Linked DNA regions of Homo sapiens. Changing the gene in region 1 together with any one later gene gives a genetic interaction. Each region holds a gene or a part of one and is shown in the gene's direction. Other genes may lie near its edges.

Region 1 (3,600 bases):
TGGGTATTGTGCCTCTTATTAAGCTCTTTATTCACATCTTATTTCTTTAGTAATTCACAGAATTGGAATTTTTGGATTAAAGTTCTTTTTTTTTTTGAGACGGGGTCTCACTCTGTCGCCCAGGCTGGAGTGCAGTGGTGTGATCTTGGATCACTGCAACCTCCGCCTCCCGAGTTCAAGCAATTCTCTGCCTCAGCCCCCCAAGTAGTTGGGATTACAGGCACCCGCCACCACGCCCAGCTAATTTTTTGTATTTTTAGTAGAGATGGGTTTCACCATCTTGGCCAGGCTGGTCTTGAACTCCTGACCTCGTGATCCACCCGTCTCGGCCTCCCAAAGTTCTGGAATTACAGGCGTGAGCCACCGCGCCTGGCCTGGATGAAAGTTTTTTTAAAGGGAGTCTTGCTCTGTAGCCCTGGCTGGTGTGCAGTGGTGTGATCATAGCTCACTGCAGCCTCAAACTCCTGGGCTCAAGTGATCCTCCAGCCTCAGCCTCCTCAGTAGCTTGGACGACAGCTGCACACAACCATGCCCAGCTAATAGAGACGGGGGACTCACTATGTTGCCCAGGCTAGTCTCGAACTCCTGGGCTCAAGTGATCCTCTTGCCTGGGCCTCCCAAAATTGGGATTACAGGCGTGAGCCACCGCTCCTGGCCCGAAAGAGTGTTTTTAAGGCTTTAAAAAAATATTGCCAACATGGTGAAAACCCGTTTCTACAAAAATACAAAAAGGATCCGGGCATGACGGCGAGTGCCTGTAATCCCAGCTACTCAGGAGACTGAGGCAGGAGAATCGCTTGAACGTGGGAGGCAGAGGTGGTAGTTAGCGGAGATCGCGCCACTACACTCCAGGCTGGGCAACTGAGGGAGACACCGTCTTAAAAAAAAAAAAGTTCCCAAGTCTAAAAAAAAAAAAATCATCAATCTGCTCTCAAAAACTGTCGCAACAATTTACAATCTCATCAGCACTGAGTATCCATTTCCTTGCACCCTTCTCAGTAGTATTACCATTAAACAAACAAAATTTATATGCGTCAGTTTGTTGGGCTCAAAGGAGCCTCTCGACAAGTTTCCTATTCCCCACGCTGCCTCTCCTCTGGACACAGGAAGGGGTCCTTTTCCTTATTTATTTTGTTATTTCATTTTCGTCAACACGGCTCGGCTTGGGGACAGGGGTCGGGGGCAGGCCGGTTACCGCAGAGGTGGAGGCCGCGCGGCACCTGGCCTGGAGAGCTCACCACACAGCGACACAGACTTCTTCTCAGCTGGGTCCACCTGCTTGCCTCGGGGCGACAGAGGGCGCCACGGCGTCCGCGACGGACCCCGCCCCCAGGCAGTGCGCCGCGCTCCCGTGACGTATTTCCGCGTCATCTGCCGCCGAGGCTTGCCCCCATTGGTTGTCTGCGAGGCAATAGGGGCGGAGCCGAGTGGGAGTGTGGAAAGCGCCGCATCCCGGGTGGGAGGCGAGGCTTCCCCTTCCCCGCCCCTCCCCCGGCCTCCAGTCCCTCCCAGGGCCGCTTCGCAGAGCGGCTAGGAGCACGGCGGCGGCGGCACTTTCCCCGGCAGGAGCTGGAGCTGGGCTCTGGTGCGCGCGCGGCTGTGCCGCCCGAGCCGGAGGGACTGGTTGGTTGAGAGAGAGAGAGGAAGGGAATCCCGGGCTGCCGAACCGCACGTTCAGCCCGCTCCGCTCCTGCAGGGCAGCCTTTCGGCTCTCTGCGCGCGAAGCCGAGTCCCGGGCGGGTGGGGCGGGGGTCCACTGAGACCGCTACCGGCCCCTCGGCGCTGACGGGACCGCGCGGGGCGCACCCGCTGAAGGCAGCCCCGGGGCCCGCGGCCCGGACTTGGTCCTGCGCAGCGGGCGCGGGGCAGCGCAGCGGGAGGAAGCGAGAGGTGCTGCCCTCCCCCCGGAGTTGGAAGCGCGTTACCCGGGTCCAAAATGCCCAAGAAGAAGCCGACGCCCATCCAGCTGAACCCGGCCCCCGACGGCTCTGCAGTTAACGGGACCAGCTCTGCGGAGTAAGTATGGGGCGGGCGGTGAACCTCGGGGCCCGGCTGGGGAGGCCCGAGCCGGGGAGCAGGAGCGCGCGCCAGGCTCCGATCTGGTTTGTCACGTACGTCTGGGGCTGGCAGGGGGCGAGAAACTCCCGGCCGCCGAGGTATCGGTGACTAAGCACTGATTGTGTTCCTGACTCAGACCAGTTAGCGGATCCCGCGGGTCTCCATTCCTCTCTGTACCCCTTTTCCCGACCGTTTTAGTGGTTCCTGGCCACTGTACAGTCTTCTCCCAAGAAAATAAAAGCTAGCACGTCTCCCCTGCCTCCTCCCAGTTCTGTTCTAAATGTGATCATCTGGGAGTCTGGCCTGTAACGGGGAGAGGAGGCTAATGTTTTGGAAAGAATTAAGATCGCATCTGTGCTTTTGAGACCAGCTCAGGGTATTAAGTGTGGAGCATCATCCTCACCTTCATGCCTGACACCTGTGGGGCCTGAGTGCCTTGTTGCAGGCCAACTGCCTGGCCAGCGGGGGCGTGCTGGAAGTCCGTGTGGACTTCGTGGCTTTTCCTTGCTGACTTTGGAGGTTCCTGGTACTTGGCCTTCCTGGGAAATTGCTCAAGAAAGCGGCTTTCTTCTTCATCCTACTCTTCATTCATTCATTGAACAAACCATTTTCTCACTAATGATTTCCTAGCTTTCCGTACTTCACCAGGAGCCCCTAAACTCCTGACCTGAGGCATGAACACCATGACCTAGAAACCACATGCTAGGTGCTCCATCTCTGCAGCTTCCAGCGTTGCTTACAAACGAGCACTTTATTTCATTAAATAATCATGAGTCTGTTTCCTGGGGGTTTCTGAGCTCCCACAACTCTCTTGGGTTCTAGGTAAGGGACAAGACTATGTGAGGGAAAGCTGCTTAGCTAGCTAGAGAAATAGCCAGAAAAGATTAGGTTATTATTATTTTTTTGCCTTTTTTTGGTTGTTGTTTGCCCAACCTTCAATAAGGATTGGGTTCTTAATCTTTTACCTGCACACTGCAGACTTTAGGAAGCTAATTGATGAAATCAGAATAGGCTTGGACCTTATGCTCTTTGGTGATTTCTGTAACCTCCCTTCCTTTCTCTAGATTTTTAGAAAATTTTATTTTTTAAACTTTTATACAGATGGGGTCTTGCTATATTGCTTAGGCTGGTCTTGAACTCCTGGACTCTAGCGATCCTCCCAAAGTGCTGGGATTACAGGCATGAGCCACTATGCCCAGCCAACTTTCTCTAGATTTTAATAACCCGGGGACCTGTTGGCTTGATGACTTGTTCCATCCCTGTAATGATCACAAGGTCGATGGTGGACCTGTGGTGTGTGTTCAGCTGTGTTTTTCAGACCTGCTCCCAACAGACTCTCTTCTTTAGTCCCCTCTCAATCCTGTGGGGTCTATTTTGCATAATACTGACTTGTATAGGTAGTTGGATTGCATTATTGCATTGCAAACATTTGTTCTTTTTTTTTTTTTTTTTTTGAGTCGGAGTTTCACTCTTGTTGCCCAGGCTGGAGTGCAATGGTGCGATCTTGGCTAACTGCAGCCTCTGCCTCCCGGGTTCAAGCGA
Region 2 (3,606 bases), on another chromosome or scaffold:
TTTAAAAATTTCTATTTAATGCAGTTAGAGTAACTTGTAAGCTATTAGGAATTACTTATTCTTACCTTAATTTTCTTTTCTTTTCAGGAATTTAGTGGTTATGTTCAACAAGTAAAATATGCAATGACAAGAATAAAAGCTGCCATGCCAAGAATCTATGAGCTCGCAGCTGGAGGCACTGCTGTTGGTACAGGTTTAAATACTAGAATTGGCTTTGCAGAAAAGGTTGCTGCAAAAGTGGCTGCACTTACAGGTTAGTGATCACGTGAATTATTTCTCATTTTCATTTCTCATTATACGTGGTCTGTACATTTTCTGAGTGTTCCTGTCTTGAATTCTTGTGAATTTAAAGTTAGAAATGATATTTTTCCATCAAACATGTGTTTTAAGTATATTTCTGAAGTTATAATGTTAATTATTTGCCTTTTAAAAAATGTTCCATGTAGGAGTTTATACAGCATGCCATTAAAATCTACCAGTGTTAGCTTTGTTTACTAGTTAGTTTTCAATTAATTTCCCTTTAAAGTTTTGAATAGCAGTTTTCAAAATAGGCAGAAAAAACTGAGTGTTGAGTAAGTTATTTGAATAGTAAATATGTTGTAGACAGACTTAATTTCTTTTTTTTCCTATTATGTCATGCTGTGATAATTCTTTGAATTATTGACCTTTTTGAACCATGTCTTTCCTTTAGTAGAGAGAGTATTATACTTTAGATAATGATAACTATTATTAGGGCCAAGTTGTCATCTTCAGAAAACTCTCATTAAGATGTAGATGTTACCAGACGGTTAGGGTAGAGATAATTATACACTGCACATGATAGCTTACCAGCTGATTTGTCTTTAAACCATATTTTAATAGAAAAGAACTCTACTTTTAGGGTTTGGCAAATGTAGATTTATAAAATTTTTAACATGGGGGTTAACTGAGAACATCTAACTCATTTTAGCACACTGTTTTTATAGGGGATCTTGTGGGCTCCTGGCTAGGGGAGAGGATGAAGCACAGTAAAGTGGACAAAGAAACTTTAAAAAATTGTATTAGGGGCCGGACATGGGGGCTCACACCTGTAATCCTAGCACTTTGGGAGGCCAAGATGGGCAGATCACTTGAGGTCAGGAGTTCGAGACCAGCCTGGTCAACATGGCGAAACCCTGTCTCTAGTAAAAATTTAAAAAAATTAGCCGGGCATGGTGGCGGGCGCCTGTAACCCCAGCTACTTGGGAGGCTGAGGCAGGAGAATTGCTGGAACCCTGGAGGAGGAGGTTGCAATGAGCCAAGATCGTACCACTGCCCTCCAGCCTGGCTAAAAAAGCAAGACTCTGTCTCAAAAAAAAAAAAAAGAAAAAAGGTATTAGGAAAGGAGTGTGGTATAAACCAGAATGAATTCCCATATACTTTTTACTCAAGCATAGTCAGGCATCATATACGTGTGTTTGCAGTAGGATTGTGTTTTTTCTTTCAGTACATTTATCATACTTGTTATTTCATCTTTTTAAAATGTAGTGCCTGGCTAAGCACAGTGGAATTACACTCCTGTAATTCCAGCACTTCAGGAGACCAAGGTGGGTGGATCGCTAGAGCCTAGGAGTTTGAGACCAGCCTGGGCAACATGGCGAAACCCCATCTCTACTAAAAATTAAAGAATTAGCTGGGCGTGGTGGTGTGCACCTGTAGTCTTAGCTACTCTGGAGGCTGAGGTGGGAGGATTGCCTGAGCCATGGAGGTTGAGGCTACAGTGAGCTGTGATTGAGCCACACTGCACTCCAGCCTGGGCAGCAGAGTGAGACCCTGTCTGAAAAAACTTAAAAAATGTAATACCAGATTCTTTCTACTCCTTTAGGACTTCTTTTAAAAATGTAGACAAAATTTGAGTCTTAAGTAAACATTTTTTTCTGAAGTAAAATTTTTATTTTTTCGTATATTGGAACTTTCTGTTTCACTTGCTAATGGTAGAAAAATGTTTAGTTTAACTTGTTCACCCATCTAGGATATTTTTCTTTTCTTTAGGCTTGCCTTTTGTCACTGCTCCGAATAAATTTGAAGCTCTGGCTGCTCATGACGCTCTGGTTGAGCTCAGTGGAGCCATGAACACTACTGCCTGCAGTCTGATGAAGATAGCAAATGATATTCGATTTTTGGGTTCTGGTCCTCGGTCAGGTCTGGGAGAATTGATCTTGCCTGAAAATGAACCAGGAAGCAGTATCATGCCAGGTAATCACATAGCTAGTAAATGTTGGAGCTAAAACTTGACTAGGTCCTAGGCATTCTTAGCTATGGACCATGTCTCTCTTTGTTTAAAGTTATCCCGCAGCTGGATGCGCAAGGCGCACTGTTCCAGCATGTCTGTGGTCCTCTGGTCAGGACTGCTGGGCACGTCACCTGACAAGATAGGAAGAAAGAATCTGACTTAGCAGCAAGTATTTCGAATCCCACATTAGAAAATGTAGAGCAGGCTGTTAAAGTGATCAGCGCGGGTTGAATAAAAAGAAGTCATACCAAACTTCACTTATTTCATTTTTTGCATTCCGTTATATGCCTGTTAGATATAGCAAGTGACACAACAGTGTATGTCTGGATTTCAGCAAGTCATTTGATAGATTCGCATGATAGTCATTGATTCCAGTGGAGAAGCGTGGGCAGTGCTGGCAGATGAATGTAGCTGGGTGAACAGTGACATTTCAGAAGTGACTAATGAAGTGACTTCAGTCTAGAAGAATATATTGGTAACAAGCTGAAGGGCTCTGCCCTTCAACACTTTACTGGTGACTGAGGGTGAAGGAAGAGAATACATGCTAATCATATTAACAGTTAACAAAGTTGGGATAGCAATACTATGGATGACAGAACTGAGATCCATAAAGGCCACTGTAGCTTGGGCTAAAACTGACAATGTAACTTTTAATAGTGAGAAAGGCCTGACTCTAGATTTTTATGGAAATTATGGATCTGTAGAATAAGAAGAGATGAAATTTTGTTTTAAAGTACTTCATGTTGAAGAATGACATAAAGGTTTAGTTGATTGCAAATCCAGGGTGATTGCCAAAAGAAAGAGAACTGGGGGAGTCACAGATAAAGGCAATAATCCACCCAATAATCTTTCCAGTGTGTTAACTTGTACTGGTCAGAGGAATCTGGGTTGTTTGATTCAAACTTGGAGCTTGTCCAAGGAGTGTGAGCAGGGTAGTGGGGTTCCAGAGACTCGTGATAAATAGGAAAATTTTAGCTTAGCATCACCTTCCCCTAGGAAGCCTCCCATGTGTTAGTGAAGGGTCGCTTTTATAAGTGTTCTGATAGCAGCATACACTACTCTGTATTTACCCCTTATAATTGCCAGCTCTTTCTCCCTAGCCTCCAAGTTCTGCGAGGGCAGGGCCTGCATCTTTCTTATTCAGTGTTGTATATTGAGTGCCTGGCTCCATAAATATGTATAGAATGAATGAAAATCATGAAGGTGGAGAACTATATTTAATGTGTAGTTGTGGCTACTCGTTAGCCTTTGAATGATTCATTTTGTGGCTACCCATCCCACCTTCCTTGGTTGGTTTGTTTCATTAAATTACACTGATGGTTGGGCCTTGCTTTATTGTATATCTTACTCTATTT

What was found. Genes that interact genetically often act in the same process or in processes that back each other up.
Region 2: changes in MAP2K1 (region 1) and FH are lethal when combined (synthetic lethality), as found in Homo sapiens cells (one large-scale study listed by BioGRID).

What each region holds. Positions count from the first base shown.
Region 1 is NC_000015.10:66,385,412-66,389,011, forward strand, and holds the start of MAP2K1 (dual specificity mitogen-activated protein kinase kinase 1), read left to right. Parts: upstream 1-1,500; 5' UTR 1,501-1,936; coding exon 1,937-2,016; intron 2,017-3,600. UniProt on the Homo sapiens protein: Dual specificity protein kinase which acts as an essential component of the MAP kinase signal transduction pathway.
Region 2 is NC_000001.11:241,502,650-241,506,255, reverse strand, and holds part of FH (fumarate hydratase, mitochondrial), read left to right. Parts: intron 1-87; coding exon 88-253; intron 254-2,010; coding exon 2,011-2,214; intron 2,215-3,606. UniProt on the Homo sapiens protein: Catalyzes the reversible stereospecific interconversion of fumarate to L-malate. Experiments in other species have demonstrated that specific isoforms of this protein act in defined pathways and favor one direction over the other.